3 separate regions of the Homo sapiens genome follow, and all the other regions are linked to region 3. The links come from fine-mapping of genetic effects on gene expression. A gene starts in region 3. Each other region holds a variant in brackets. All regions are shown on one strand. Distances are between the middles of the regions. Region 1 overlaps NUP210 (nucleoporin 210). Region 2 overlaps XPC (XPC complex subunit, DNA damage recognition and repair factor). Region 3 holds the start of XPC-AS1 (XPC antisense RNA 1).

Region 1 (6,916 bases), 810 kb before region 3:
GGAGTCCCGATGAGCCTCGGGAGAGGGAAGAAAGTGGGCGGGCCTCTCTAGGTGTGAGGGTGGGGACTTCCTGTGGGACAATGTGGCAGGAACCCTCCCTGCCACTCGGGGTGCTGGCCTGGGACAGGGGTGGGAGGTGAGCTCTGGAGGGGGTGGTTACCTACCTCGTGGTGCCGCCCTCGGAGGTCCAGGACGTCCCGCTTGGTGACAGACCAGTGGAAGGTCAGGCCTGGCACGGCATTGCCAAAGGAGAAAGGGTTCTGGTGGTTGGTGATGCCGGTGACATAGATGGGCATCTGCAGGGGAGAAGTCAGGCCCAGTGAGCAGTAGCTCCCAGCACTGGGAATGCCCCCAGAAGCTTTGCTGCCTCCTTCAAGCAGTGGGAGATGAACCCAATTCCTCCCCAACTAGAGAAGAGCATGGCACAGGTTTGGGAATTTTGATGAAATATCAAACGAGCAAACCAGAGGTGGGACTGTTTTCCCCATACTGTCCCTCCCCTGCAGCGGGCTGCACCTCTCCATGGCCAAGATACTCATTTCCGGAAGGAGTCCCTGGAGCTCTAGGAGGCCATGGGTCCCCCAGCAGCACAGCTCGTGCTGCCCCACAGTGCTGGTTCCTCCGGGCCCCTCTCTCCTAATCTAGCTGGGGTCCCTGCTCACAGGGCACGTGTGGGTGGGGTCCCTGGCTCCTTTAGTCTCTATTTGCTGTGTCGGCTTGAGGGCACAGGCGGAGGCAAGACGGCAAAAGGCCACAGCAGGTGTTGTGCCAGGCTGCCCAGTCCACTCCCACTGCTGCCACTTCCTAGCTGTGTGGCCCTGGGCACGGGTCTTAAGCTTTCTGTGTGTTCATTTGCTCATCTGCGACACGAAGATGGTTCTGACACCAGCCTCCCAGGGCTGCTATGAACACCAAATGGATTAATGTCCAAGACAGCACGGAGTTGAGTTAAGTGCCACAGTCACTGTGCTCCTGTTAGGCACCTGGTACTATTCCAGATGTGGGAAGGTGACAGGCCAGCAGGAAGCAGGCCTTCATCAGTGGCTACCAGAGAGCAATGGAGGGTGTCTCCCTGGGTGGGGACAGGTGGGAAGCAGGCCCTAGATACCCGGGCCAGGCAGATGGAGGAGGTGGAGAAGCACTCTAACTTGAGGACAGGGTCCCAGCAGTGGCTCTTCGGGAACCAGGATTCAGAGCCCAGGAGGTCCCCTCACCTGGGTGCCCGTCCTCATCCGCATGATGGGGGCGCGGATCCTCACGGCCCTTAGCAGCAGCACCTCCACCTGCACGAGGTCCTGGGGAAACAGGGTGGCACTTAGGTGTGGGGATGCAGTGCTGGCCAGGGATGTTTCAGGAAGGGACCCCTCAAGGGAAGCAGGCTGCGGCTCAGAGTCTGTGGCGAGAAGGCCCCTCAGGATGACCAGCACCATGCTCCTCTGCCGAGGGAGGCCTGGCTTTGTGAGTGGCTCTCCCCTCATGGGCCAGCCACTGCCTCTCCCAAGGCCCCGCAGGTCCCAACCCAGTCCCCTGAGGCTGCTGCCCTGTCTGATCCAGCTGTTCCAGGTCAGCACTGCAGACTTGGGGCCGGGGACTGGTGCCTGCTCTTCCTTAGGCCTGGCTGCCCTCAAGCAAAAGGTCTCCAGGCCCTCCCAACCCCAAATCCAGCCTGCCTGTCTCTGACTGAGCAGGGTACAGGGACGAATGCAGGAGCCCTGTAGAGTCTGATCAGAACTTATAACCTCCTTCATTCTGAACTCCACACTCCTATTAATCTGGCCAAAGACTAACTCTCCTGGCTTCTTCCTAGTGCTGCTGAGTCATGCTGAACTGAGGCTATTAAAACCCTTAGACTCTCTGACGTGCTCAGGCTGAGCCCATCTTGAGGCTCATGACTTGGGCTAATGCCTGGCACACAGTAAGTGCTTGAAAAGCACCCATTCCCCTCCTTTCACTCATCTTTCTGCTCAGTCTCTTCCTGCTAGTCCTGGCCCACCCCACGGCCTTGGGGTGCTGGTTGTGTGCTCTGGATTGGACAGATGGAACTGGAAGCATCTGACCAGAATCACATTCCAGGCATGGACAAGGCGCCGCAGGTGAAACCTCTGCCTGCCTGGGCTCAGAACATGCCTTTCAGATAGGGCTCGTGGTGCAGCCCCTCCACCTGCCAAGGACCACCAGGGCCTTTCCCCAGCACCTCCCCAACCTGCCAGATGGGGGACCTAGAAGGGAGGGTGCCCAGCAAGGTTAGACCACAAAGACAAGGAATACGCAGGGCCCTGTGCCCCTCTTGCTGAATTTCTAGCCAGCTGCCCTTTACCTACGCCCTCAGGAGAAAAATCAGCCAGCTCCTGAGGCTGCACTCCTTTTTAGAGAAAAAAAACCACAGAGTCTCCTGTGGTCTGGAATGTCACGCTCCAGGAAGCCCATCTGAACCCTACCCCATCCCCAGGACAGGTTTTTACATCCCCAAGTCTTTCTCTTTGTCTTCATAATTGACACACACTGGGAAAAGGAGTAAATCAATGAACTCAATGACGGATCACAGTCAGCCTCTGAGAACAAGCATTTCCCTGCACCCCCTCTAGGGCGGTGCACTTGCCAGCTTCTGGGGTGCTGTGTTTACAGGTTCTGAACTCAGGACTGCACGGACTGCTTCCAGGGGACCTAGTTCTCATGAGGAATGGTATGACTGACTCTGAAACAGGTTTCTGTCCACAGTTGCATTACACATCACAGAAGGCTCTTCTTACAGACCAGGTTTCTGGCGCAGCTGTGAGTGGAACCCCAAAGCAGCCTTCCGAGATGCTTCTGCAAGTCACTGCTGGCGAAGGAGGTCAGGGAGAATGCAAAGGCCCTGATTTTAGCCCTGAGCCTTGAGAGGATTCAAGGAGATGAAGGCAAAGTGCTCAGAGCAGCATCTGCCTTCACCATGATTGCCATCATCCTCCACTGGAAGGGCCCTTTGGGGCCGGGAGTTGCTGAACACCCTGTCCCATAAGGAGCAGCTGGAAGGACTGGGAGACTCAGCTTGGAGAAGAACAACCAATGGGGGTCTGGGTGCTCCCATATTGGCAGGGCTGTCCTGCACCAGGGCCCCTGCAGTGACTGCAGACCCAGGGGGCAGAAGCAGCACCCTTGGAGAGGGGTGGTCCTCAGAGGTAGAACTCAAACACAGTAAAGAGGCTTCTGTCCCAGGCACAGCTGCCCAGTCTCCAATAGCACGCCTGTTACCTGAGAGATGATGACCACCTTGCCGGTCTCTGCATCCACTGCCTGCACGAGCCCAGACACAGTGCCGTTCCCGATGGCGAGGCCCTGTACCAGCCCAGCAGCGCTCACCAGCGCAACGCTCTCATTGCTGATGGAGAAAAGGATGTTGGACTGAGGCTGGGGGCCGCCCTCGGAGGTGACCTGAG[C/T]GGGGAGGAAACAGCGGCGTGTCAGTGCCCGTCATGCCAGGCAGCCCGCACCTCCCACTCAGAGAGCCAGGGCCCCAGTGCAGGCAGCTTCTGCCTTCTTCTCCCAGTCACTGCACGCAGGGCCAGAGGCGGCGTGCCTGGAACCAGGTGGTGGCCTGCACTGGGGCTGGAGCAGGACGTGGCCTCTTGGCTCTCACCTGCATCGTGGCCCCGATAAGCAGTGTCACCTTCCTGGGCATCAGCCTGAACGGGGGAAAGACCTGTTGAGAGACACAGGAGAGAAAGGACTACTGTGCCCCAAGCCCATGGCGCCAAGCATAACTCACACACTACATGTTTCATGAGAGGAAAACCTGGGACATGGACATCACTTCTCTCTGAGCAGTGACCAGAGGGCCCAGGGTCCTGGGCCAATGCTGGGGGCTGTCTCCCAGCCACTGGCCGAGGCTCCCTGGTTCTCTGGGGTGTGTTCTTCTGTTTGTGACTGTGTTTCACTTTCCCTAGATGTTAAAACCCAAAAGCTGGGCCGTCCCCTTGGAGGGATGGCTTTTATGCAGTTGAGCCATCCCCTTAGAGCAGCGGTTCTCAGTGTGTGGTCACTAAGCAGCAATGTCAGCAGCGCCTGGGGACACATTAGCAATGTACAGCCCCAGCCACCTGGCCTGTGGAGCCAGGGGTGGCCCCACAGGACAGCCCTGCCGATATGGGAGCACCCAGACCCCCAGAGGTTGCTCTTCTAGCACACCCTCCGGATTAGCCTGGGAGGAGACCAGGGACGTTGGTGCCACTCTTTGCAGCAGGTGAAGCCCCCACCTGCTCCTCCTGAAACCCCTACAAGAGCCTGCCTGGCAAGAGTAGGTGAGTGGACGCAGGAGGTGGCCAGGGTGCTACTTGTGTGGGAGTATCGGTCTCTGTAGCTGTGCTATTGATGGGCAGAAACAAATTTCTCATCACCAGAAGAAAGGTGCACCTCCATCTAGAGACACAGATGGCACCCACCTGCTTCGGATCACAGATTAATGACGCTCACCAGCCCCCGAGTGGCCCGGATGCAGGGTGGATGCTGGCAGGGCTGGTTTAATGCCGCTGCTGTGAATAGACTTAAAACAATGCCTGGGCCACAACTGCCATGGCCTGTGGCTGCAGTGGGGCTCCTGTCATAACCTAATGCCCCGAGACAGCCCCATACCACACACTGAGCTGGTGTGGGGACCTCAAAGCTCCCTTCATCCAGGAATCACCTACTTCAGGAGTTCCCTTTATGATACCTCTGCTCACGCAGCCCCTGTGACAGGTGCCCACTGCCCTCGAAGTGCCTGTTCTAAGGCTCAGGACCAATGGTTAAGGAGTTCTTCTACACATGAGTCAGCATCTGTCTAAGCTTCCACCCAGTCAGTGCTTTCTGGGAATAGTCCTGGTGTGTCCCCTTGCCATGTGACCAGGCACACCCCTTCTCTGAGCCACACAATCCCCCAAGTCACAGAGGAAAGGTCAAGTCACTTGGCCCCCTCCCTCTGGTTCTGCCAGTCTAACTTTGCTGCCTCCCAGATCCCTAGAGCTCGTAACAGCTGCCTTTTGATGAGAGGACATTGTGGGACACAGATTTTTATATGGCTTCTCTACAGTAGCTTCCTGGACTGTACTATAAAGACACTCCCAACCCCCAGCACTGGGCTGATCCCACATGGTGTGGGAAGAACTCGTCTTACTTCAATCTGTTGTGGGGCTGAGTTGATTCTCTGTCCAGCTTTATTGGTCACACTTGCAGTTAGACTGGTCTGGCCGATGGCCACACCGCGGATGAGGAATGTGATGGTGTAGTTGTCAAGGGCTTCATCAAGGGCCCTGAAACAGAGGGAAGGGCTGGGACTTCTCCAAGACCACCCCGTGGGAAAGGCTGCAGCTGGGGTCAGCACTGTCTCTGAGGTGCCCTCCTCTGACCCCTAGGAGAACTCACACCAATGTAATGATCGGGGAGGCTGCTCGGAGCTTCAGGTCCATAAAGGGGAAGTATTTGGCAAGGAAGGGCTTCTTGTGCAAGTCCAGCACGCGGACGTATGCCTTCACTGTCTTCCCAATCTCCACCTGCATCATGGGGACAGAGGTTCAGGGGCAGCCTCCAAAAGACCAATCCTACCATCTATGGTGCTCCGTGACTTTCTGAGATAGCATCACTAACCTCAACCCACAGACCTGGGAATCAGGAGAGTCACCCAGGTTGACTTCTGGACTATCAGCCAGTCAGCAAATGAAAATCGATGAGGGGGAGCTTGGGGATACTTAGAGGCATAAATTCCACATTCTACTCTTAAGTAACTAATACACTAATTAGGGAGATGAGACACCACTTAGAACAGCAGCATCCAGTAGGAGCTCAATAAATGCTCACTGACTGAACAGCTCACACCTGGCAGTGTATAATACAGTAAGAACTTTAGGAAATAAGAATCAGAAATACACAGCGAAGAAACAGATGATTAGCAAACAGCAGTGGAAATGAGATTATACAAGGAGTATGTGAGGCTGGGTACAGCATATTAGCTTCTTAAGGAGCCTAAGCCACATGAACACTCCCCTTTTAATTACCAGCCCTTCTATCCACTGAGGAACCTGACCGCAACCCTCTGGAAGCCCAGCTTCAGTCACCTCAGATATCTGGAGTAATAAAAATTCTGTATCAGTGTGAAAGATAAACCGAGATCTATCCCTTGTCTCTTTTTGCAATGGCGCTTGGCATGGGTGAGTTGTACTCATTTGCCACTGACACCCCAGTGAACCCAAAACCTATATTCTGGGAAGAAAATACATGCTCAGCAGGGCATGTGCCTCGTTGGTTAATAACCTACACCAGCCAGAAGACATGAATTCCCAGGTCATGGCTAATTTAGAGACAGCAGGATTTACTGCCAAGCCTCATGGGTATGTCATCTGGGATGAAGAAGTCCCTTACTGAAGGGACTCTGGATCCTCCACATGGAGCGAAGGAGATGGGAGACAGCTCCGCAAGCTCACAGGGGAAGGGATGCAGACCACAGGAGCAAAAGCAAAGGCCATGCGGAACATTCCTCCCACAGTCCCCTCCCTCCCAGTTCCTGCAGGTCAGCCGAGGGTGCCCCGTCATGAAGCTTCCACTGACCTTGTCAACCACACGGATGTACAGCTCCTGAATGTCCGACACGTAAACGACAGCCTTGGCTGGGGCCGGGAAGACGAGGCACAAGTCATGGATCATGATGGTGGATGAGCCCGGGAGCAAAGGGTGCACCTGCAAGGTTGGGGCGGAGGTGGAGGGGTGGGTGGTGGGTTACGCAGCTGCAGGGCCCCCCTCTGCTCAGGTTTGTGAGCAGTGCCTCGCCCTCAGCACCAGCCTATCACCTCATGGGATGCCAGTGGCAGAGCCCGCCAGGCCAGCACTGGGAAGCAGTGGACAAGGGAAATCACCCCAAGTAGTGCCCTGCCCACCTCTCGTCATGAGCCCCACTGCTGGCCAGGAGATGGGC
Region 2 (6,916 bases), 23 kb after region 3:
TCAGACAAAACTAGAACATGAGACAGTCTACAAAACAAAAGACTAGGATCCTTCAAAAAAGGCAGTGCTATGAAAAGCAAAACAAGGCGGTAGGTGGGAAATACTGCTCTATATTAAGAGAGTAAAGTGACATAAAGACCAAATACAAGGCTTGGTTGGATCTTGGTATGGAAAAAGAAACAGGCATAAAGGATGCTTTCATAACAATTGGGGACTTATTTTTCATTTTCGTAGGTGTGATGAGGTCATTTTGTCATGCAGGAGAATGTCTAATTATTAGGAAATGCAGGCTGAAGTATTCAGCAGTGGAGTATCAGAATATCTACAACTTATTTTCAAATGGTTCCACAATGAATATTTACAGAGAGAAACATACATTCAATGTGGCAAAATGTTAATGAACCTAGGTGAAGGACATATATTACATTTTTCACTCTTTTTATAAATTTGAACACTTTCAAAATAAAAAGGTGAGGAAAAGTCAGGCCAGACAGAAGGAATCAGGGATGATAACATTAGCTGGTATTTACTGTGAGTGTATGATACATTAGGCCCATTACATTTGCAAACTTTCTTTTCCCCACAATAATCCTACAGCCTATACTGTGAATGGCTCACACTAAACATTCAGTGTTTACAGAGTGTTACCAATGAGAAAACTCAGTTCAGAGAGGTGAAGTTACTTGCTCAAGATTAAATTACTCACTCACACTGCCACCTAAGTGGCAAAGTTGAGCACTGAACCCAATTCTAACTACTTTCAAAGCCTGTGCTCCTTCTCCTAAATAGTGCTGCCTCTCTATTTATATCTACCCCATTGACAGTCACCAGAGGAAGAGAGTAAACAGCCTTCTTTGGTAACTTGGCCATGAGTTTTTCCATATATATCAAAGCAAGTCCCTAGTACAACCTTATCTGTGGTCTAATTAGCTCAAAAGAAAACAAAAGGATTGCAATTAGTGATCTGACTCCAAACAGAATCAAACAAAAAAACAAACAGAACCAAACAGTTCTGAAAACAAAGAAAGATGTTTCACCTTCAACCTCTTCCCAATCATTTTCACTTTCTTCCTCTTCTTCATTGCTGTCTTCATTCATGGTAGCCCCTCTCTTCAGATGGTGTGCCTTCTTGAGGTCACTTGGAAAGTCCCTGTGTAAAGACCACAGGAAGGAAGATGAAGAAGACTCAGACATCCTAGTGTTCCATTCAAGCTAAATGGAATTTTTAAAACCCCTCCTATTTATTGAGAATCTGTTGCAACTATTTAAAGATGATTAGTAAGCTCTGAGCCTCACTTCCTCCATCAACATGTGTTCCAAATCTCATCAAGATGTGCTCTGATCATCTGTCTAATTACTACCAGATGTGCTGTTAAAAAACCTACAATCTAGATCGTGTGAAAGAAAACATAGCTGTGCCTGGACATGACAAGGAAAAATTAGAAGACACCAAAATAATAATGAGTTCCAGAACTGTGATATCTGTGTGATATATGTGCAGTTGGAGGCCAGAAAGAACAGAATAAAATCTCCATTTATATATCCTACTATAAGCCTACTCAGACTTCTTTTCCATCTTTAAGAAATATGATGTAAGGAGACTGAAATTCATAGCATTCTAACTTCAAGCAGGGATGTAACTACACATAGGTGAGTCATAAATAACAAGAGACATAGACAGCTAGCTAGCTAAGTAGATAATAACATAGATAAGTAGCTGGCTAAACAATGGCTCAAGGCTAAGTACTTGCTGATACGTAATATATTTCTGCAAATTCATATATAAAATGTGTCTAGAGTATCCAGTTACTTTTAACTTGTGTAAACTTTGGCACTTGGTACCAAGTGAGAATATTATCTAGGATTTTGGTATAAACATTTAAAATAACCAATCATCAATCTTGAGCTCTAATAATACACTCTTTTTTTAGAGTACCACTTTCTCTCAAAACACCAGCAATAAAAATTTCCCCTTAGAATGAACATAGCAGAAATGACCACAGTCAATGCTCAGGGGAGAGGGAAAGGGGGACCCAGAGCTTTCCTTGGCAGTATCGTGGCCTATCTCTATGTATATGTCTCTGGAGATAGAATTCAACTAGTGAGGGGAGGCAACTGGAAAGCAGTAAGTTCAGAGGTATTCTTCAGAAAAGTCTAGGGAAGGCCAGGCGCAATGGCTCACGCCTGTAAGCCCAGCACTTTGGGAGGCTGAGCAGGGCAGATCACCTGAGGTCAGGAGTTCGACACCAACATGGTGGAACCCTGTTTCTACTAAAAATACAAAAATTAGCTGGGCGTGGTGGTGGGCACCTACAGTCCCAGCTACTCAGGAGGCTCACTTGAACCTGGGAGGCGGAGGTTGCAGTGAGCCAAGATTGCATCACTAGACTCCAGCCTGGGCAACAGAGCGAGACTCCATTAAGGACGGGACCGGGATGGGGACGGGACGGGGCGGGACGGGAAGGGAAGTCTAGAGAAAAGGAGAAGAGATGGATCATGGCGGAAAATCATCATGCTGTCCCGTGTCCCTTCCTGTGCCCTCTACTGGACTACTCTCCCATCCCAGGACTAGAGGCTGCTGGAAAAGCTGATACTGGCAGTGAGGATTTGTTTATGAAGCAAATGAAAAACTATCCCTCTGTTCTTCCTCTTCTCCCCACCCCTCAACTTTCTTAGGAGGCAGAAAATCAAGTGTTCCCTGGGCTCATAATCACTGTTCACAACATATTAATATAAATGCTCATTCATTGCAAAAATACTTGTTCAGTTTCTGCCAAATAAAAGGGCCTGCAATGGATGCTACAGGGCATATGAAAAGGAACCCCACATGGTTCCAGCCCTCTGAGAGGTCACAGGGTAGTAAGCCTGGGTATGTGGCATGGTAACAATAACTGGCAGACATATCACACTCCCTAGAAGCGCTACAGGAAGTCAGAGGAGAGAAGGGGGAAGAATCAGTGAAGCCTCTGGAGTAGGTGGTTTCAGATCTGCATCTTCAAGATGGAAGCCAGCAAGCACTCCAGGTAGAGGGAATACCATGAGCACAATGCAGGTGTAGAAAGTAGGAGAATGTGTTCAGTGAATGATGAGAAGCTCAGGTGGGCCGGAGAAGAGCGTGCTTGAGGACAGTAG[T/C]ATGAGATAAAGCTGGAATGGCAGGTAAATATTTTGTATACATCTAATATTTTTGTGTAGTAGAAAGAGCACTGGACCAGGAGTCAGAAGACCTGGGTTCTCCTGCTTTTGCCACTGTCCAGCTGTGGAAGCATGAATAAATCACTTACTGCATGCTGTCACTGTTCTTATCTGAAAAGTTTCCAGCTCTTACCGGTCTGAGTTGTACCTAGAAGAATTTAAAGATCCAATCTTCCATGGACCCCAGTGACAAGTAAGAATAGAGGTTTTCATTATTCACAATTCTCTGATGAGAAAAATCAAGACCCGAGACAAAGCTTTGCAGACATCTCACCTGAGGTCATCCCCATCGCTGAGGGCTTCATCCTTTATAACCTTGAGGTTTTCAGATTTAACAGTCACCTTGGCCACTTTCTTTTTTGCTGGACCATCTGCTGAACCCCCAGGATGACTGCAGCCTCTTTTCCTCTTTCCTTGTGAAACTTTGGAGAGAAGGCTCTTCTTTGGGGGTTTCTCATCTTCAAAGGCATCTAGGTGACAACACAGAACATAAGGTGAGGGGTGGAAGGAAAGGTGGAGGCAGTGCAGCTTATGGGCAGGGGCATAAAACGGCTCTATGACCTGTCTCCAAACCCCATCTCCATCACTGGTTCACCATCCCCTGTCTGGTCAGCAACCAGCTCTCAGCTTCTTCCCACCTGCGGCTAGTCTATATTCACAGTAAAAACCATCTTCCTTTATCAGCACTTTACTTCTCCTATGACTACAGAAAATACCATAGGACTCAAATAAAACCTAACTTCCAGATCTTAAATGTCAGCTAACCTCCTGCCAGGAAAATACAACATCCATTAATTAGCACCTTATTTATTATCTGCCAAAATTAATTGTCTTAGGGATAATGTACTCCTAAGTAAAATGTTAAGTACATAAACATGTCCAAGTTTTACCACAACATCATTACTATTAATCTACATTTCTGCCAACCTTCAAGACCAAACTGCTCAAAACACATACTGCTCTGAAACCTTTCCAATGTAACCCAAATGGCACTCATATACCAACCACCTCAGCAAACTTACAGTTGGAAAAAGACAGCAATAATTCAAAAGTATTTTCTTAAAGTAATTATTTTTTTGTTAAAGGGAAATAAAAAATGCATAAGCTGCTGGTTTTAGTCAAATTGGGGTATCTAAAATTATGGTTTATTTACATATAATAATTATATTAATAGATTAGTTTTAACAAATAATATGGCAGGGAAGGATAGTTTTCTATTTTGCAAATATATTCACACAAATTATCTTGAATCTGAAATAAATCTTTTGTCTTTGCATGACTCTGCTTCAATTAATTTTAGAAAATAAAAATACTCTACCTTTTATTGAGGTTCCAAAAGGGATTGCAATATTAACCTAAAATATAAAATTATTTAATAATTCAGTCTTTTCATTGTTTGTCTTGCTGACTCTCTGGATGGGTATTTATATTCCACAAGAATATACTTTTGCATGAGGGAAAAAAGACTCTCCCTTCTGATCTAAATGAAATCATGATTAAATGTTAATAAAATTCATAACAAAGGAGCATTTATTTTAATGTTAGATCATTGATTCCGTTGTTTCTTTAAATGTTTTATAAAAAAGGAATTTATGCATTCCCATTTTTAAACATTGTATGGAAACCAAAAAATAAGGAAAAATTTTGAAGTACAAATTATTTCAAAATTAATTTTTTCAAATCTGAGAACAGATTGCCTACTCCAAGGCCAGAGGTTGCATAAAGCTTAAGATTTGACAGTTTGAGGAGGGTGCCCCTAAAATCAAGATTTCTGGATCTTACAATGGTAGTTAGCCCTCTAATAATAGGCAAAGATGCTAAACACTTCAATTTCTACTAATCTAAAAAAATGCACGTAGGAGGATACTTCAGAGGCATCACAAACTTTTCTAGTTGGTTAAAAAGCACAGCTTTTATTTCCGTTTGAAGAGAAAGGTAGAGGAGTTAAAAGGGAAAGGGGGATAAAGGAAACACAAAAACTCTGAATCAAAAGGATGTTCATAGTATTCAAAAGCATCTAACAATAATCTGAATGTCCAACCATGAGATAATTGTTAAGTAACTTATGGCAGAGCCACACAACAAAATATAATTGAGTCATCCTTTAAGATAAAGAAAAACGATATATGATGTAATGTTACTCATGCAAAGTTGATTTTACAGTATGCTTTCTGCTATATAAAAAACAGACTAGAAGGAAACAGACCACTATTTCATGGTGGCTATTTCTGGATGGCAGAAATATGGGTGACTTTCTGTTCTCTGCTATTTTTTGGTCCCTAAGCATCTAGAGACTCTTTTCCAGGACTCTCCAAAATCTTGAGTTATCTAATATGCCTAACCAGACTCCTTGAGTTCAGTGTTCTTTCAGTAGGGCAGGAATTACCACTGTGGTCTGCTTGCCCATCTACTGGGATTTAATAAGAACACCGGAGTAAACCTTCCAGCAGCAACTCATAGCACTCAGAATAAAATTCCAACTCCTTAGCTTGGTATCCAAGCTCAGGCCCTTGCTCACTTCTCCTACCCAGCCCCTCGCTCGCTGTGTCCAGCCAACTGGCCAAGTTCATTCCCTCCTAAGAGTGTTTAAACACACTGTTCTCTCTGCCTAGAACTCTTTTCCCCAGAACTTCCTATGAATGGCTCAAAATTACACTAAATGCCTCAAAATGCCACCTCCTTACAAAGGCCTTCCCTGACACTGATTCCCATTTAGCTGCCTCTCCCCCAGCCCCATATAAGTTTGAGGGTTTTTCTTTTCATCTATAGAAGCATTTTCTGCTATGTACCCAAATAAGTTTTATCACAGCAGTCTTAGCACAGGGTGATAGCTCTTATCATCATGTGAATCCGTTTTTTTTTAACTTGTTATCTGCTCTAAGTACCCCTCCCCCCAGATTATAATCATGAGAGCAGGTGCCTCATCTGTCTTGTTCAATATTATCCTAGTACCTGGAACAGTGTGTGAAAATAGTAGGCGCTCAATAAACAGCTGTTGAAGGAATTAATGGATATCACTGAAGGTGTTAACACAGAGAAGAAATGAAAAGAAACCAGAGGTGCTTTAGTAACACAAAGGAAATCATGTGGAAGCCTGTTTTCTTTTCTCCTATTTGTCAAAAGCAGCCAAGTATCACCTTCATTTGCATGTACAGGGGTGCTATTAAAACCTACACTATTACAGTGTTAGCAACTACACTGACAGTCACCAAATTATTGTCATCTGCAGCCCAAACCATACTTGCTAAGTCTATGCTTCCCCACAAAACCACCAAACCACAACAAAGGTTGTAACTCTGCAGATCCTGGAAGCTGCCTTGGGAACTGACTGCTAGCTCCTCTGGCTAGCAGAATAAACTTGGGTGCATCTTTACCTCCGTTTAGGCTGAATGACACCAGCTAGCCCAACTAATTTACCTAACATGGGTAAAGCTAAAGCTCTTGGCTTTATATGCTATCCCACTGAAAACTCACAGCCACCCCGCAAGGCAGTTATTACATTTCACAGAGGAAATTCAGAAGGGCTAAAACATTTGTCCAAAATAATTCACCCAAGTGCATAAAACTAAGAATTGAAGCTCTACCAAGCTGGAACCGAGGTGAAGTGTTGAGCTGGGAAGAATACAGGTAGCATTTCCATCAGATTAAAACCGTAAATTTTTAATTGCCATATATCCAAATTACATTCTGACTAGAATACCGGCCCCTTTTTGTGACCCCTTGC
Region 3 (6,916 bases):
GGCCGCTTCTGCTTGAGAGCTGGTCCCCTCCTCTTCATCAGAAGAGAGTCCACCTCCTGCATCTGTGTGGGGAGCTGCTGCCTCACTCTGGACAGGTGGCAGTGGTGGGAGGACACAGGCGAGGGTTAGTAATCAGATACCAGGAAGCCCCATGAAGAGGCAGCAAGTTCCCAGCCTGCCCTAAGCTGTGTAACTCTGGGAGGACAAGGGCATGGGACAGGGCAGGGAGAGAGCCCAGACCCTTCTTACTGAGCCGTCCCAGCCTGGGGTGCATCCAAGCAGACACTGGAGCACCTGCTACGAGCTGAGTGCAGGGGAACACAAGGATGATGGCTGGGCAGGAAGCTGCCCTCTAGGAGCACACTGCCTCATCTGGGGATGCCTGTGATTCGTGCCTTGCATTTGCTACCTCATTTCTGGACCAAAGCACATGATGTCTTGAACGGGCAAGATGCACAGTTCAGCCCTCGGAGCCCTAAGATCTGAGGCGGCACTCCCTGCCAGCTGGGATGGCTAGGGAGGGTTTGGATGGAGAAGGCGGCAAGGAGCTGGTCAGAACATAAAGTCAGATGAAGGGCTTTTCTCCACCAGAGGGACTGGAATGAGGAGCGTGACAAAAAAATGTTGAAAGGCAAACAGGCAGCACAGAGGGTTGGAGAGAGGGAACAAAACATGCCAGAGCAGTTTCTGCTGTGTCTGACACAGCACTGACTATACCATGTAACTGGGCCTAGGGTCCATCTGCCCCAGGGAGGGGCCCCCTTGAGGGCTGCATGTCAAATTCACACCTGTGTCCAAGCCTGGCCTGGCACATGGCAGGTGCTGTGAGAGAGGTACTGAGCGGGCCACTGCAGGCCTGCAGCATGGTCACAGGCACTGGGAACACTGGAAGGCGGAAGGGTGCACCAAATGCAGGACACTTGGCCCTCCCTATGTGTTCAGCGCCAAATCAGACCCATGGCATTGCTCATGTGGACAGTAGAAACGGGGACACTGGGACAGGGCTTGGGGCAGAAGAGCCAGCTGAGGCCTCACTCCAGGGACACCTTTCCCAACAAGGTAAAAACAAGCGGCCTTAGAGACAGAAGACTGAGGTGTCCTAACACAAAGCTATCCCTGACTTGAGGCTGGGGCAGAATCTGGGCCAGGCCTTTCTGAGCTGCATCTCCAAGAAACTGACCCTGAGCTTGTCTTCTCTGCAAAGAACCTGCACTGACCTTGGGCCCGTAGCGACGCTTCAGCCTCTCCCTGATGAGCAGACCTTTGGCCAGCAACTTCCAGTTCCCTAGAGCCCGCTTCTCCTTTTTCTGCAGGCAAAAATGAAGTGGGAGAAAAGTGTTAAGCACTGACATTTTCAGGAAAAATATTAAGATGGAAACTGTGAATGTAAAGACAGATATATACACCACTTTAGAATATAGCCTCTCCTTCACACCAAGTCTCACTTCCAAAAAATTGATCTGATTTACAAAGTGATATACTATACCTGAAAGCCACAAAAACAGATAACTTTTTAATCGTTACTGACTCCAAAATCTTTAGTGGGTGAGGTCTTCCAGAACCTGGACACAGGCAATTCAAGACAGAGGCAGGTGTGGGCAGCAGGGGCAGTAGACCCCAGAGCCCGGACCCAGGCTCCTCAGGGACAGTGATAGTCTGCGGGGTGGGCAGGAGCCTGCTGTATTCAGTGCTCGCTCCCTCGGGTGCCTGCCATGATGTCAGAGAGGGCTGGGAAGAGCCTGGGAGCACACGGAGGCGGCCTGGGGAAGGAAGAGGCCACCCGCTGAGTGTTGCTTCCCGCTTCTGCTGTCCCTCAGTCCTGCATATGCGCTTACCTCCTTCTCCTTCCTTTCAATGACTGCCTGCTCATTTTCCCAGGCAGTCAGGAGCACGTCTTTGAATTCCTCGCAGACGATGTATCCATCAGTCCTGTGGGGACACAACGCGATGTCAACCCTCGAACCTGCTGCCTGCTCTGCCTCTCCTCCCTCCCCAGTTTGTGGAAGACAGTGGGCCACATCTGAGCACTAGGGGTCCTGAAGGATGTCGCGGGTCAGCCAGTGTCCCACATCCTCCGTGCAGAAGGCAGGCCTGTGGAAGCTGGCACTGCCTCTTCCTCCCCAGATTCTGCCGAAGAAAGCTGGGGTGAAAGCCCCTATCCAGCCTCACCCATCATGGAACAGAGCTCACTAACCAGGCAGCTGCCGGGGAAAGATGCTGACTGTTTTTTGCTCACTAGCCTGTGAGTCCCTAAACCTGGGAAGAACGTTTTAATCCAGCATTACGATGCCAGTTTCATTGGCTCCGTTCCCTCTGGAGGGAAGCCAGAATTGGTAAAGCACTGACTTTGCAAATCCAGTGTAACATCCTGAAAATTGGAGCCACCAGGCCTCAACTCCCAGCAGCCCCATGCCAGCTTTCCATCCCCATCTCTGGAGCCACCCCTCCCCATCCCTGTGTTTAGCCTCCATCGAAGGCCCCTCACGCACACGGGATGGGAGTAGCCGCCATGGAAATCAAAGCCAGTGATGGCCTGGACACAGTCGATGTCCAGCTTGCGGGCCACGCGGTGTAGATTGGGCAGGTTCAGCTGGACACAGCCAATAGGCATCATGCTGGGCAGGAAGAGGTACACATTCCCAAACTCGTTCCGGGGCACCTGTGTCGGGTGAGCAAGTCAGCATTTGGCCAGCAGGGGAACAAGGCGGCCTGGTCCTGAGCCCTTCTGATGCTGCCCTTACCTTCCCGTCCACGGCCACTGGGGGCTGATACTCCTCTGTCTGCCAGTAGCCAAACAGGCCCAGGTCATTTTCTTCCCGCAGCTGGGGCTCAGCAAGTCGGGCTTTCCGAGCACGGTTAGAAAAGCCTTTCACCATCTGCACCAGAGGACACGGCCACCGTTTACAACAAAGGCATCCAGTTCCTCAGCACCGGGCCAGGCACCATGCTCAGTGCCGCATGCCTGGTACCTGGTGAACCCTCAGAACACACCTACCAGCTGGGGTGCTTTTTCTCCCTTTTTTTTTTTTGAGACAGAGTCTCGCTCTGTCGCCCAGGCTGGAGTACAGTGGTGCAATCTTGGCTCGCTGCAACCTCTGCCTCCTGGGTTTAAGCAATTCTCCTGCCTCAGCCTCCTGAGTAGCTGGGATTACAGGTGCCTGCCACCACGCCCGGCTAATTTTTGTATTTTTAGTAGAGACGGGGGTTTCACCATGTTGGCCAGGCTGGTCTCGAACTCCTGACCTCAGGTGATGCACTCGCCTCAACCTCCCAAAGGGCTGGGATTACAGGCGTGAGCCACCGTGCCCGGCTGCTCCCCTTTTCTTACTACAAGCACTAGCTAACATTTATGGAACATTCTCTGTCCCAGACACTATTCTCGGTGTTTTTTGTTTTTTTATCCCCCTGAGACGGAGTCTCACTCTGTTGCCCAGGCTGGAGTGCCCTGGTGTGATCTCAGCTCACTACAACCTCCACCTCCCGGATTCAAGTGATTCTCGTGCCTGTCTCCTGAGTAGCTGGGACTACAGGTACCCGCCACCATGCCCAGCTAATTTTTATATTTTTGGTAGAGATGGGGTGTCACCATATTGGCCTGGCTGGTCTCAAACTTCTGACCTCAAATGATCCACCTGCCTTGGCCTCCGAAAGTGCTGGAATTACAGGCATGAGCCACTGCGCCCAGCCTATCTTCAGTGCTTTATATGTTATTATTTAATTTTTTCAACAAACCCACAAGGTAGGTCTTATTATTGTTTCCATTTTACAGATGAACACCACAGACGGGGTAAATGATTTGCCTAAAGTCACACAGCTCGTAAGGGCCAGAGCCCACACTTTCATCCACTAGCCTATATTCTGTGCTGTCATCACTGATAGCAGTGACTGAGACTGAGAGACAAAGTCACTTAAGAGCTGATGGCTGGTAAGTGACAAGAACCAGGATTTACAATTCAGGTAACTGTCCATCAGTAGAGCCTGTGTCTCAACATATAACCTATGTCTGCTCACACGCCCTAGAAAGCACTGACAGTTCAGGACTCCCAGTGTGCTCCCCAACAGCGTGCAGTGGCCAAGGCCAAGATCTTCCCTGGGGAGTGAAGTGGTGAGAGGGGCGCAGGACAGGCAAGGACAGAGTCACGTAACTCTTAGAGGAGTCAGGCATGGGCGTGCGGCTGAGGGCTGGCCCCTGGGCCTCAGCATACAGACTTCCTCTAGTGCAGGGGCCCACAAGCTTGTTCTGTAAAGGGTCATGCGTGGCCTCCATCACATATTCTTTATTCTTCTCATTCTTATAACCCTTTAAAAATGTGAAAAGCCATTCCCCAGGTTGGGGGTGGCCTGCGAGCTCTCATGTCCATTCCTGCCATGATCTCTGGGCGCACCCTCTCTGTCACCACTTCAGGGACAGAGGGACTCTGAGTTCTGACAACCGTCCCTTTCTGAGAAGCCATTCACCCAGCACACTGTTCAGTAAACTTCCACTGGGATCTCCTGGAGACCAGGCCATGACCCAGTCATGAAGGAGGGATGGAGCGAGGACAGTCTTTGCTCTTAGGAGCTCAGGCTCCTGCAGGGGAAGAGACAGAGCTACGACTCAGCGTGATGAGTACAGGGTGGAACAGGAGCTCAGAGGCAAGCCATTGCCCAGCCCTGAGGACAGTGGAGGCAAGAAAGGCTGCTCAAAACAGGTCCCGCCTGAGCAGAGGCTTAAAGGGGCAAGGGGTTGCCCAAGAGAACAGGGCTGGACCCCACAGGGCACAGAGGTGGGAGAACACTGGGACCTGGGGCCTAAGTCCTCTGGAATGCAGAGGCAGTGAGCACCAGAACATCACTGTGCACCATGGGGAGGGTGCGGGACTCAGACTAAAGGCGCTGGCCAAGGTGGGACAAGGATGGCCAAGATGCACAGAAAGAGCCTAGTGACTGACAGGGGAATGGATTCAGGCTGGGAAGGAGGCTGTGGCTGTTGCCCAAGCAAAAGATACTGAGGCAGGAGCTGGGGTGGTGGGGATCAGAACAAGGGGTGAATTTGAGAGATTTGGGATTCCAGAACTGTGCTACCATGACAGCCACCAGTCACGTGTGGCCACTGCACACCTGAAACGTGGCTGGTCTGAACTAAGGTACAGAAAGTCAAATACACAGAAGATTAGAGAGACTTAGGAACAAAATGGATTTAAATATCTCATCAACACTTTAAAATATTTCTTACTGCTGAAATAGTATTTTAGATATATCTGGATATATTTTAATGTTAAAATTCCACCTGTTTTTGGTTTTTAATGTAGCTACTAAAAAATTTAAATGTGTGGCTCACGTTACATTTCAACTGAACACTGCTATGCTGGTTCCAGCACAAAAGACAGGTGAGATGGTGCAGAGAAAATCCTCAGCAACCCTGCAGGCCCAGGCAGGGGGCATCGCCCACTCCAGCCTGCTGCTGGCAGTGACTGTGACCAGCGCCTGCAGCCTTTCCCACTAAGCGGAGGCCCCTCCACTCCCCACTCAGCTTCCCGGAGTCTTGCAACCCCCAAGGACTCCTGGGGTCTGATGAGAAGTAAATGGTCTCTGTGATCAGCCACTGTACACTTCCGGTCGTACGGAGCTGTGTGTCCTGTGAATAGTCTCTGTGGGACCTCGCTCGGTTCGTGTTCCTCAAGAGCAACCAGCCTAACAGTGCCGCAGCACAGTGTGAAAGGAGCACTGGCTTTAAGGCAGAGCCTGGGATTCTCACCTGGGCTCTGCTCTGCCATTTTACTAACTGTGGGGACTTGGACAAGTCACTTGCCCTGAGCTTCAGTTTTCTCATCTGTAAAATGGGCATCATAATGCCAATTCCTATGGCTTTTGAGGCAACAGAGATCACATACATGCAAAATGCTCAGTGAACTGCCAAACAGAAGGGCAATCTGACTGGAGAACGTGCTGCTATAAAGCAGGGCTCTGACCTCCCAGGACCCAGTAACTCAATTCCAACCTGTAGAACCTTTGAATTCACAACAGGAGTCTGAGGCCTACTTTTTGGCCTAGATTTCTTTTGTGTTTTGGAAGATCCATTTCTTACAAATGTCTTATTAATAAGACAATTTAAATGTTTCTCTCCTCCTTGAATCCTGCTCAAGCCGGGAAAGTGAGACATTTCTGATCAGGATCCTGGGCAGGACTGGGAGGCTCATCATCACTTCTCTGCCCCCAGCTCTCCCGCTCAGCTACAGGCCTGTGTCACCACTCCCCACAGGGACCCCCCAGCTCCAGTTACCTTGTAGGGTACTTCTCCAAGCCTCACCACTCTTGCTTTCTTCAGCCACGTGTCCCTGGAATGCAGAGTGTGCACACAATCCCTGTGGAACCAACACAGGACACAAAGGTAACTCAGTCCACAGCCCCACTGCGGGAATGCGGGACAGTGGAGAGCGCAGCCCTGCAGGCTCCCTCCTCAGGTTCAGCCACCCTGGAGCAGGCCGAGCTCCTAGGGGGCCCAGAGAAGCTGTGCTAGGCAAACAGCCTTGAACGTGGACTGCCTGTCTTTTGGGGGATGTGTCCACTTACAAACCCTAATCTGCAGCCTTTGTGCCTTGCCTCCACCACTCCTCCCCTTCATAGGTTTTCTTCTCCTCTGCTGTCCAGAGCCTGTGAGAGCTCCAGCTGCAGACTATCAGGATGGGGTAAAGGCCGCTGTGCGCAGGCACACTCACGTTTACTACCACCACCAAGCGAACACCTGCTGAGGCTCTGATCTGCTGTTAACACCATGTGGGGGAGGGAAGTGTCCAGGAGGGGGCAGTGAACCCAAAGGAAGGCTGCAGAGAAGCCAACTATAATAAGCTAATAAGCTATCACAGAATCAAGACACCTGCACATGGAACAGTCAAATGATTCCTGCAGGCAAAGTTCCTCTGGCTTCACTCTTCCT

Evidence for each region. PIP is the estimated chance that this variant, and not a neighbour inherited with it, causes the effect.
Region 1: its variant is fine-mapped to the expression of XPC-AS1 in subcutaneous fat (GTEx, PIP 0.98).
Region 2: its variant is fine-mapped to the expression of XPC-AS1 in whole blood (INTERVAL, PIP above 0.99).

The regions. Positions count from the first base shown.
Region 1 is chr3:13,336,623-13,343,538 of GRCh38, forward strand. It overlaps NUP210 (nucleoporin 210), which reads right to left. Exons shown (of 40, transcript NM_024923.4): 21 at 6,553-6,681; 22 at 5,374-5,501; 23 at 5,126-5,261; 24 at 3,614-3,676; 25 at 3,232-3,411; 26 at 1,215-1,295; 27 at 165-296. Among named protein-coding and RNA genes, the nearest start is that of NUP210, 80 kb to the right of the region's middle. The variant C/T (reference allele first, on the strand shown) is at 3,417.
Region 2 is chr3:14,169,401-14,176,316 of GRCh38, forward strand. XPC (XPC complex subunit, DNA damage recognition and repair factor) reads right to left here. Exons shown (of 16, transcript NM_004628.5): 2 at 3,467-3,662; 3 at 1,038-1,150. Among named protein-coding and RNA genes, the nearest start is that of XPC, 5.7 kb to the right of the region's middle. The variant T/C (reference allele first, on the strand shown) is at 3,133.
Region 3 is chr3:14,146,073-14,152,988 of GRCh38, forward strand. XPC-AS1 (XPC antisense RNA 1) reads left to right here and starts at 3,490. Exons shown (of 2, transcript XR_001740603.2): 1 at 3,490-3,530; 2 at 3,770-6,916. It overlaps XPC (XPC complex subunit, DNA damage recognition and repair factor), which reads right to left. Exons shown (of 16, transcript NM_004628.5): 11 at 6,263-6,344; 12 at 2,742-2,876; 13 at 2,490-2,659; 14 at 1,836-1,929; 15 at 1,218-1,307; 16 at 1-87. RefSeq lists enhancers at 2,481-3,165, 4,783-5,283.